Homo sapiens: one gene and its partner. The protein of the gene in region 1 interacts with the protein of each later gene in a pairwise test. Each region holds a gene or a part of one and is shown in the gene's direction. Other genes may lie near its edges.

Evidence for each region.
Region 2: the proteins of CMTM6 (region 1) and BPIFA2 interact in binary tests that used the Homo sapiens proteins (3 or more experiments, as listed by UniProt).

The regions. Positions count from the first base shown.
Region 1 is NC_000003.12:32,480,787-32,485,858, reverse strand, and holds the end of CMTM6 (CKLF-like MARVEL transmembrane domain-containing protein 6), read left to right. Parts: intron 1-1,761; coding exon 1,762-1,899; 3' UTR 1,900-4,547; downstream 4,548-5,072. UniProt on the Homo sapiens protein: Master regulator of recycling and plasma membrane expression of PD-L1/CD274, an immune inhibitory ligand critical for immune tolerance to self and antitumor immunity.
Region 2 is NC_000020.11:33,164,039-33,171,168, forward strand, and holds the start of BPIFA2 (BPI fold-containing family A member 2 precursor), read left to right. Parts: upstream 1-4,120; 5' UTR 4,121-4,171; intron 4,172-5,092; 5' UTR 5,093-5,107; coding exon 5,108-5,264; intron 5,265-7,130. UniProt on the Homo sapiens protein: Has strong antibacterial activity against P.aeruginosa.

The DNA.
Region 1 (5,072 bases):
GTTGTCAGCTAATACATCATTAAAACTGCATTTTATGATAGAAAACTCAAAAGGAGTTCAGAGAATTGCATGGCTATATTTATCTATTCATATGACAACAGTTTCTTAGCACTTACATGTGTAAAAACAAAACATAGAAATAAAATTAACACTGAATCTTGATTCATTCTAGCAATAAGCAATATTTATTCATGGGTACATGAACCAATAGAAGAGAAAAATCAAAGTTTTAATAGGGCTTTATGGTTAATTTCAGTTTAGAAACATTTTTGTTGCAGAGGAGTATGAGATGGTGATCAATAAAATAATGAGTTTTTTAACTCATTTTTAATTTTAAAAAGCTCTGGCTACTTATTTGTATAAAAATACATTACTATAAAATTCTGTGGGGAAAGTGAAATGAAGTTGAGGAAAAATTGAGTTCCAGGGAAAAAATTTACAGCTATAAAAAAAATTTTTATATTTTAATTAGACTGTCCCAGTATTTATATTTCATTGGATATATTTAATAGTGACAGGTAGTTTAAAAAGCTGATATTTATAATATGCTGGAAATTACCTTTTGTAACTATTTAAATTATGAAAAGTTTTATAGACTTAAATGCATGAGGAAGTTCTTTTTTTTTTTTTAATTCAGAAGTGTGTGAACAAAAGAGCTAGAAGATGACTTGTGGTGATCAGAGACAGCTTCAAAAACAAGGGTGACATTTGGTCTGAGTTTGATGTATTTAAGAAAGTTGCCAGGAAAATAAGGGGATAAATGCCATCAAGTCAAAAATAAAGATTCCAGAGGGAAAAAGACTTGGCTTTTGTGGCGGGGGATGGGAGGGTGGGAGGCGTTGATAATTAAATTTAGATTGGATATGTTGGGGATATCTGGGGGACTTAATGAATTTGGAGCTCAGTTTACTTTGTGGTAAAATGAGGTGGAATGCTTATTCTTTAGAGGGGGGAGGAGAGGTCAGGAGACTGCAACAGACTGTAAGAGAATGTTATTAATAAAAATCGTGGAGATAGGGAGTTTAGATTTGGAAGAGACTTTAGCCATCACCTACATCAATTTTCTCTTTTTTACAGAGAACTTATCTGGCCCCCATATCCTTAAGGGTTTTGCTAGTGGAGAAGCTAAATTTGAAGCAGACGCATGGTCTTCTGTCTCTTGATAGAATTCTCAGAACGTATGATCGTATTTTAGAAGAGAACAGTTGAGGAAGTGATTTAAGGAAGAGGAAGTAGGTAGTGGCGTCATGTCACTGTGTCATTGCAGTGTGACAACTGGAACATTATTTAAGTAATTTAACCTAATAGTATCTTCAAAATGGAATTTCTGTTTTGATATTAATAACTTTTTTCATTTTCACCTAGGCTGAGTTGCCTAGTCACGTATTTTCCTTATCGCATCTGTGGGTCAATCTAACCATGCAAATATTTTTGTTTTGTATCATTTTATAGGATTTAATGTTTATCTGTTAACCCTACTTTCATATATTAGCCCTCCACATATAAACATGCACACATAAGGCAGAACATTAATATTTTGTGAGACTTTGACTAATAGCCATTATTCTGGAAGTTTTTCTTTTATAACTTCTTTCCATTTTTTGATGACTTAAAAAAATTTTTTTTACCATTAAAGAGTAGTCGTGTATAAGATAAAATTCATGAACATCTTGTTTATATGAAACATTCTCCAAGCCAAGTAGGAAATGTAAGATTATATTCCAAAATTCTCATATAACCTTTCCTCCTTTTTTTCCTCAGGTGTTTGGATTTATAGCAAGTTTTATGTTCCTACTTGACTTTATCACTATGCTGTATGAAAAACGACAGGAGTCCCAGCTGAGAAAACCTGAAAATACCACTAGGGCTGAAGCCCTCACTGAGCCACTTAATGCCTAAAGACTCTGGGGAGCAGATGTTACCTAAGGTAGTGACCCTGCATTGTGGTGCCTGAGCCCTGGCAGAAGCTCTTGTAAAATTTGTTAATTGTTTAAACCACTTCTTTTGGAGAGCAAGGGGAAGGTCAAGAAGGCAGTTTTATCAATATTGTGTCAGTCACCACAAAGTAGGCCAGATAAGTTAAAAAAAATTTTTTTTTAAATAATAATTGAAACTTATCTCAAATGGAGATTTTGGTGGGAGGAGGAGAAAACAATTGTTTTTAAATCACACAGCTCAACGGTTGATAAATGATTCTGTCATTCTGTTACAGGTCATTCTTTTACTAGGCTTAGCTTCCAAATTATGCTTTATAGCTGTATAAACATCGTGATTATATTCATCTACTTAGAAATTGTTTTATTTTTAAATTAATTTGCTTAGCTGTTTGTTTTGATGCTTAGATTATGTTCTGTTAATGGGAATTTAACATATTTAAGAAACCAATATTTAAAATGTTGGTCTAGGTTTTTTTCCTTAACATATATTACCAGGCTTTACTGTATTTCACTCAGCCTTAAATGTTATAATATTTTTGGATAACGGTTATTAATTCTTTGAGACCTTCGTATAGCCTATAAAATGTATGGGAGATGTTGGTATTTTATGTGTATAAAAGCAACAATATCAGCAACTTCGTGTTTATACTGCACCTTGGTTGTTGATGTCAAGTAAAAAAAAGATTGTTTTGTAACACATAAAAAAATGGAAGAAACTGATACCACACCTAAGGACCAAAGATAAGAAAGACTTTTTGCCCAAGACAGTGAAAGTAATTATAAAAACAAGCTTTGACCACTTACCAAGTATCTGAAGAGATGAGTTCATACTATGATTTAGAAAGTGGTTCAATTCCCCTGTTGGCATATGATTATTTTTACTAAAATTAATACAGCTCTGTGGGTCTTCCTTAGTGTTTTCTTTGAAGCCAATCTGTTTTTTTTAGGACACCAGCCTTTGGTTTTTCATCTGTTCGAGATGCCTCTTCTCTGTCTCCTTATCAGATAGAAATGGAGTCATGTGCTGCTGCTTCATCTAGCAGAGGTTGGCCTCTGGCTCTGACACTTTTTGTCAGTTGTCTTTAGGTGGTCCTGAATCTTGGGCCCTTTTGATTGTGAATACTGTGTAGCAGGATCTTGAGAGTCCTTGTTCTTACATAGGCATTGCTCTAGTTTGTCTTTGGCAAAAAAAAAAAAAAAAAAAAGTAAATATCCAGGGAACCCTGCCCAGACTAATACTGTTGGTGGCATAAGAGAATCAAGCCATTCTCAAGAGATAACTTCATAACCAGAATTGTCTGTTGGCTAGCAGCTGTCACAGATAGGCAGGGCACTTGGGATATGACCTTTCTGTCCAGGTGATTCACAGACTAGACCTTTCTTATCCTCCTCCTAGAGTTTTGACTTGGGACTCTAGTGTTAAGATGATGAGCCCGTGCATCAGGTCCTTCTGCACTTTGGTGGAAGTCTCCCAGGGTAGGTTTCCTATTTGAAACAGTGGAATCATGTTTCCAGTGATAAAGTTTAATGACCTCATCCTTTTTTTTTTTTCTCATCTGCCATTTGTGTGTCTTAGATGGGTTTTAATTGCATGAATGTGGCTAATGTGGTTCTCAGAAATTGGTCAGTATGGCCCAACATAGCTTCTGCTCTGTCTTACTGACTCAATACCTTTAGGATTTGTATCAGAGTTTGGATACTAGTGTTAGTGGTGGTGTCACCACTACTTAATTGGGAGATAATGAAACCAATCATGGATGCTGTTTTTATTGGGCATGTCATCTAAGAGAGGAGAAATAGCTGGGTTTTGGGTCTAATTATGAATAAGGACTGATTCAGAAAACGAGTTTATGGTAGGTAGACTAAAGTTTCACATCAGACTGTACCATTGTGATTTAGACCTATCTAAAATTCAGAGCATATCATCTGGGCTACCTCAGGGTCACCACCCATGTATTGGGCTTAGTCAGGATTGACAGATACATTCTCAGCTGGCCTGTCATATAAAACATACTGTCATTGAGCTTAAGCTCCGCTTGTTCTGAGGTTTCACCTCCATGTGTTTCATTGGTGCAAAAGTGGATCTCTTAGTTGGTCACTTAATTCTTTCTTTTTCAGAAAGATAGTATGTTCACTGGTATATTTGGTCACTCTTAGAACCTTCCTTCACATTGTTTTTTATGGGACCCATGAATGGTTAGCCTTTCTTTTCTATTGTAGAAGGAAATAAATAGGAGTAAAAAGACCATTGTAGTAAATAAGTTCAAGGGGAACTTGGGACCAGAAACCACTGTTATGTACAAAAAAATGGCAAATTCAATAAACTCAAATTTAAAATAATTTTTAAATTAACAGTTATGATAAATTTTATATTTTATACAAATAGATTGCTTAGAATGGTTCTCAAGAATTATAAGAGAAATGAACTCACAGTACAAAAATTTTATAATTACTATACTTGTGTTTTGTTTGGGGGCTGGGAAATGTATTTTTACATTGTAGCCAATCATTTTATATTTGTCAATTTAAATCTTATGGGTCTTTTTTTTTTATCTCTCTTGATGTCAGATTTTATAGTCTTTTTAAATAAATCCATTTAATTAAAACGTTCTTACCTTTGTAAGTGTTTATTACAGAAGTGTGATGTTTAAATGAAAAGCTGTCTCTGTAGTTGTGGGAGTTGGCTGCACAATCTTGTTGAGTGCCTATATAGAATACTAGATTTTAGATATATCTAGGATAGAAAAGAAACAAATCCATTTCCCATCCATAAACTGTCCCTCTTGTTGGAAAGTTAGAATACACATTTAAACAACATTTTTAGGGAACCACAGAGGAAGACTTACAAATGGCTTTAAATACTTCCAAAGAAGCAATTTAGACTCCTTGTCACATTTCTAGATGTGGCTAACAATGCTAAAAACAAAATAGGCACATTATCTTAGGAACTGTTCAATGATTGGGAAAGTGTGAAGCAAAATTATTAGGGTGGTGCTGGTAAAACTACAGCTATTTGTGTAGTTTGCGAAATTCCTGCCTCCACCCTGTGTGAGAATAACAGGGTCTTTATAGTCATCAAGAACTCACTGGAATTTGTACATTCTTCAGAGTTTAGAGTTGAGTTTTGTTTTGATA
Region 2 (7,130 bases), on another chromosome or scaffold:
CCGATCGAATCAGCTCACCTACTGCCCTGGAGTTGGCCTGTCTCTGGGACAAGGACTGAGCTTCAGACATCTTTGACCCCATCACAGGGCTTGGGGTGCCCACTAAAGGGTTGTCAAAAGCATGAGTGGCTCCAGCAGAAAATAATTTGCACTTGTAAAGTGAATGAACAATAAATAAATGGACAGATGACTAGATACAGGGCCAGGCCCACTTTAGCAGGGAGGATCTGGAAGATGAGAGAGGGCACAGAGAGATTGAGGGGCCAAATTCCAGGGAGTGAGGTGAGAACAGGGAGCGACCCAGAGAGCTCGCTCATGTCAAGAGGCCCACCCACCTGGGGAAGACAGAAAGTCAATGCCCATGAGGGGAACCAGACCCTGTGCTGGGTACTGGGACCTCGGAGATGCTGTGGTCTTGCCCTCAGAGAGTGGGACTGGCGAGACGTGGCTGACCTCCCTCCCTCCCTTCTTCTCTTCCTTTTCTCCTCCCTTTCTTCTTCTCTCTCCACATCCCCTCTCTCTCTTTCTTTCTTTCTTTCTTTCTTCCTTCCCTCTCTCCTTTCCTGCCTTTCTTCCCTCCCTCCTTCCCTCTCTTTCCTTCTTTCCCTCCCTCTCTCTTTCCTTCCTCTCTCTTTTTTCCTCCTTCTCTCTCTCTCTTTTTCCTTTCTTTCCTGCCACAAACATCATTTGACTCCTGCTGTAGACCAGACCCTGTGCCAGCTCTGGGGGAACGAAGGTGAACGAAGACAAGGTGCCCAGACTTCAAAGGACCCAGGGGAGGACCCTGACCCGGTGAAAACTCCTTTAAATTTTCTCTGGGAGTGTTGGATGAAGCATTCAGGGAACATTCCATGGGACAGGAGGAAGAAGACTCCAGCCTGCAGTGGGGCAAGGCCCCCTCCATCTGTCAGTCCATAGGAAGTGGCTCTCCATATTCTAAAGGCAGGACTTGAGAGGGGTCTATTAGTGTCCAGATGTGGAATCCGGGACTTAGGGAAATACTTGAGCGCTGAAAGAATAAACTGTGTCACCAGAAGAAAACCCGGCAAAGTCAAAATTACCAAAAGTTGAATTAAAGGTCTTCAGACTGTAACATTGTGACAACTTTATTAATTGCTCTATTTAGCAGTCACAGGAAGGACAGTAACGTGTGAACAGGTTTTGTTGCTTTGATCTTTCTTATTTGCCCAGAATTCCTGAGTAGGCAGTTCAAGTGTGAGAAACCAGGACCTACTAGAAATTGGATGGATGATTCGTACTTGACTGATTTCACAGGCAAAATGGTGACAAGCCTTTCAGCAATTTTACTAGCAAAATAAGGCAATTATCTTTGATGGGTGCAATGGGAGTGCACACCTGTGTGTTTGTTATCTGGAGAAGGGGTGGGGGCTGCTTCTGTCCACAGGAGAAGGAAGGTCAGTGGGCAGTCTGGTCAGCTGAGCACCCCCCAGCCTGGCTGGCCCCTCATGCAACCCCAGCCCTGTCACTCGCTTTCTCTGGTCTCAGTAGGCTGCATGACCTCTTAGGCTGTTTCTAGCCAGGGCACTGAGCCAGGTATGGAAAAAGATACCAGCTTGGAGGTTAAGGCTGGGCCAGTGGGATCAGGAAGCTGCCCCAGCTGGGGATTAGCAGTCACGCAGCAGGTAGGATGTCCTAGTCTTGGCACAGCTAATCTTTAATGCCTCACTGGGAATTTTCAATAAGAAATTCATCTCGCGACCCTCATGGCTGGGGCCTTTGTCCCTAAGAGGCAAACATCTTCTATGTGAGAAGACTTTGTGTAACCTGGAGAGGGAAGAAGAGGAGGAGGAGGAGCACACAGGAGGAGTTGTCACTGTTTCTTTTTCCGGAATGACTCAGACCAGCCAGCCTGAACCTCGGGTGACCTCTGAGGATCCCAACCTCCCCACCCACCAAGGACCCTATATTATATATTATATAATATTAATCTTATGACAGATGCTCCTCATTTTATTTTATTTTTGTTTGTTTGTTTGAGACGGAGTTTCGCTCTTTTGCCCAGGCTATAGTGAAGTGGCACAATCTTGGCTCACTGCAACATCCACCCCCTGGGTTCAAGTAATTCTTCTGCTTCAGCCTCCAGAGTAGCTGGGATTACAGATGCCTGCCCCCACACCCGGCTAGATTTTGTATTTTTAGTAGAGACAGGGTTTCACCATGTTGGCCAGGCTGGTCTCGAACTCCTGACCTCAGGTGATCTGCCCGCCTCGGCCTCCCAAAGTGCTGGGATTACAGGTGTGAACCACCATGCCTGGCCAGATGGTCCTCATTTTATAATGGGTTGTGTCCCAGTAAACCCATAGTAAAGTTGAAATATTGAAGTCAAACCATCGTAAGCCGGGACCATATGCGCACATATTCATCAGCATCTTCTTCGCCATCTTTGCTGTTGCCGTGCATCATGGGCCTACCCTATGCTAAGCCTTCATGGGTATTACACTAATTTGACCTCACAGCATGCCCTTGAGGTGAGCACTGTTCTTAGTCCCATTTCACAGATAAAGAGCCTGAGGCTCAGCAAGGTGCGGTCTCTGGCCCAGGTCACATGGCCAGCAACCAGCAGAGAGAGAGTATTCATGCCCAGGACAGCCCAAGCCCAGTGCCAGGCTCTGAGCACTGCCCTCAAAGCCCCTCACCATCGTTTTGATTTCCTAGGTCCTTGCCTGTCCACCATGCCTCTGAGATCCAGGAACAGCGTGTTTACCCATTTTACAGATGAGGCAACTGAGGCCTGGGCCAACACCAGGTCTCGAGGTCACTGCATCATGCTCAGCACCCTGGGCTATGTTCCTGGGCTGGGACAAACTGCCTTCACAAGATTTCAGCACAGCCCTTGGCTCTGTGCTTCACAACTGGGGGAAGAGCGGGGCTCAGACGTTTGGAGAACCCGGTGTCAGGCAGCCAGGGAAGGAGGTGTGACAACCATTCAAGACCACAGGCAAGACTGCAGCAGGGGTCTAATGGTCTGGGCTCTTGGGGCCTGGCCATCACCTTCCTGCAGCCGCCCAGCTCTGTGCTGTAACAGTGGAGCCATGGTCAGTGTAGGAACAGCCAGCTCCTGGAGCCACTGGTCTTGTCCCACCGTTTGCTTGGTTGCATCATTTTGAGGACAGGCCCCCCAGGTCCTTGCTGAATTGCAGGTGGGTGAGCAGAAGGGCAGAGACCTATGGTGACCCTGAGCTCTGTGCCAGTCCTTCCCAGCCTGAGGCCAAGTGGGCACCCACCCGAGTTTCCTGTGCTGTTCCGGGTTGACACAGGCCCAATGCAGCAGGCGTTACAACCAACCCAAACATCAGTGGCCGAAGCAAAAACAGGATACTCAGGCCCAGGGACTCTCCCTCTCTGCTAACTGACCTCAGCCTGATATGGGTGGAAGGGTCTTCCCTGGTGGCCCAAATGCCTGGTTCCTGTCCTTGCAAGTATGGACAAGCCACCTCCCTCTCTGAACTTCAGCTTTCTCAACTGGAAAATGGAGCTCTGAAAACCTGCCTTACAGAGTTTTCATAAAGACTAACAGAAAAGTGCATCTAAAGTGCCCTTTAGGGACACCAAGCCCAGTGTCAGCACAAGCAGCTGCCAGGCATCTGCTGCACCTGCCGGGTGCAGACCCCTGGGGGCAGGACCCCTGGGAGGCTGTCTGACTCCTTGTGGGCCACAATTCTAGACCCATCTCGGTCCCTGTCTTGCTGAATGACCCCAGGCTGGTGGCTTCCCCTCTCTGAGCCTCAGTTTCCAAATGATGACGGAGTTAGACCGGATGGTCATTATGGGTCCTCCTGCCAGGACATTCTCCAATTCATTCATTCTCAGTCTTCTCCCAGTCCTCACCCACAAGGACCAAGGACCACCCCCTCGGTAGCTGCAGGCTCCATGAGGACCTGGTCTTAGTCTTGGCGGAAAGCCCTCTCCATAGCCATCCGTTTCAATTCAAGCATCCTGGGTGACCTTTGAGTTGGAAATCTCTCTCTCTGCTCATCCTGGAGAGGGGTTATTTTCCTTGGAGTGTCCTTGGATGATCCCAGAACCAAGGCTTGCTTCTGTGGGCAGCCTTCCATCCCATCTCCACCATATAATAGCCGCCACCATTCAGCAGAATCCCAGCAGACTGTGCAGTGGGGCAAGGATTTCATGAGCATCCTCCTCTAAACGCGTGAGTGGCGTGCTCCCCCCAGTGGCACCACACGTGGTGGTCTTTGGAAGGCTTTGGGGGCAAGAGGCAGAGGGGTGGGATTGCTTGGGTTAGCTAATATTTTGAATACAGCAGAGATAATCAATATATCTCTAAATGTGCTCTAAATGGCAAGTTCGTGATGAGTACTCACTAAAGATTCCATTTCCCTCTGGGCAATTCTTACTCCTGTTCTTCCCATGACTGTCCAGGTGTCAAGACAAATGGCAAATCAGAGTAAATTTAGAGATCTATAGATTATATTAAAATAAGTGTCAAACTAATGAACAATGCAGGGTCATGAGGTGGTCTCCATTGATTTGTTCATACTTATATTCAACAAAGATTTATTCGTTTACTGTACTGTACTAGGTGCAGGCTTTTTACTGGCGCCTGAGGATTCGACAGTGAAATAAGTCACAGTCCTTCCTCTAAGGAGTTCACAGCCTGGTAGGAAAGGTGGTCAAATCATCAGGGAAGTGTTATCCAAGACCTTGATCAGGATAATGAAGGCAGCAAGGTGGGACTCCTCCAACCTAGAATCTGGGAAGGGGCCTACAGTAGGCTTCACAGAGGGCATGATGTAGGAATTGACCTAAGTGGAAAAGTAAAGAAGAAGAAAAATATTTTAGGCAGAGAAGACAGCGTATGAAAAGGAACTTTGTGTCAAGAGTATGGGCTTGGAGTCAAGTCTGACTTTTCAAATCCCAGCTCCTCTGCTCACTGACTGTGTGTCTCCGGGCAAGTTGCTGTAGCTTTCTGACCTTGGCTGCCCATTTGTAAAATAGGAAATAACCACATCTATCTTAATGGAATGCTAAATGTTAAGAGTGATGGGAACTCACTGAAGAGTCCATTTCCCTCTGGGCAATTCTCACTCCTGTTCTTCCCATGACTGTCCAGGTGTCAAGACAAAAGATGCTTCAGCTTTGGAAACTTGTTCTCCTGTGCGGCGTGCTCACTGGGACCTCAGAGTCTCTTCTTGACAATCTTGGCAATGACCTAAGCAATGTCGTGGATAAGCTGGAACCTGTTCTTCACGAGGGACTTGAGACAGTTGACAATACTCTTAAAGGTAAATCAACAAGGGTGATGAACAGTGTCACCTAAATTAGCCTCCTAAACACTATGCCTGCATTACCAGAGGCTGCCACCAGGGGCTACTCTTTATGGGCGGTTTACTGAGAAAAGTGGCTATTCAATTCCTGACTCATTCGTTTATCTTTCTAGAAACAAGCAATGCCACAATGAATAGCCTTTTACATATTATATCCTGATAAACGTGCATAAGATAAATTCCTACAAGTGGGATTTCAAAAGTTCAAAAACTATGCTGTTGACAAATAATCTCCTATGTTAACACTTTCTCCAACAGTCTACGAAAGTGCCTTTTTTCCCACTCCTTTTCCAGCACTGGGTATGGACAACTTTAAATATTCTGCCTGTCTCACAGATGAAAAGCTATAACTTATTTCACTTTGCATTCCTCTAATTATGAAGGAGCCCTCTTCTTTTTTCATATATTTACTATGTACTTACATATTTTAACTTGAGGATTTTGTCTATATTCTTAGCATATTTTTCTTTTGGGTTGTTTAATATTCTTTTATGGACTTGTGTTAATTCAGTGAAAATTAAGGAAATTATCCCTACCTAGCCTTGGTATCTGTAAAGCTACCTACCTTTATATTTATTTATACCTCCTTTTTATGCTAACCTATTAAAATAACTTGGCTTTCTTTTTGTTTTATGGAAACATTAGCAGCACATCAAAAACAGTTTTTGTAGGAGGAGGTAACTTCTGCAAATGGCTGCCTTTCAAACCTTGTCAAGGGCTTAGGTAACTTTCAAAGATGCAGAAAGGACTCACACTCTAATTTCACAGCTGAGAAAACTGAGGCCCAGAGACAGAAATGTCTAAACCAAAGTCACCTCGTGAATTATACGATTAGACGTAGTTATATCACCAATTTTATTTAAAGTGTCATTCTCTGAATCATTATAACTAGGTAGATATTGTCCATTACAGAGCCAAGTTACAATATTATGATTACATCTCTTTTCTTATACGGTATAGTCTTTTGTTTTTCCTTAAGTTAGTAATTGCCCTGTTGTTTCTCACTTGAATTATTTTCTTCTCATATATACTTAATTATTTTCATGAGCATCATCCTGTATCTATCATGACATTTATTATTTTTTGAGACAAGGTCTCACTCTGTCACCCAAGCTAGAGTACACTGCCAGCCTCAACCTCCTGGGCTCAACTGATCCTCTCACCTCAGCCTCCCCAGTAGCCGGGACTACAGGTGCACACCACCACACCTGGCTAAGTTTTACATTTTTTGTAGCGGTGGAGTCTCACCATTTTGCCCAGGCTGGTCTCGAACTCCCGGCCTCAAGTGATCCTCCTGCCTTGGCCTCCCGAAGTACTGGGATTACAGGCGTGAGCCACCACACCCAGTCACGACATTTATTCCCATCCCCCTGTTCTCCAGAGACCTATCATAAAGACACTTTGTCCTCCTCCTCCTATAAGAATTATTGCTTTCTTTTGGTGCAACTGCTTTTGGTGTCATGAAGTCTTTGCCCGTGCCTATGTCCTGAATGGTATTGCCCAGGTTTTTTATGGTTTTGGGTTTTACATTTAAGTATTTAAACCATCTTGAGTTAAGTTTTTAATAAGGTGTAAGGAAGGGATCCAGTTCCAGTTTTCTGCATACATCTAGCCAGTTTTCCCAGCACCATTTATTAAATACAGAATCCTTTCCCCACTGCTTGTTTTTGTCAGGTTTGTTGAAGATCAGATGGTTGTAGACATGTGGTGTTATTTCTGAAGTTTCTGTTCTGTTCCATTGGTCTATATGTCTGTTTTGGTACCAGTACCATGCTGTTTTGCTTACTGTATCCTTGTAGTATAGTTTGAAGCCAGGTAGCATGA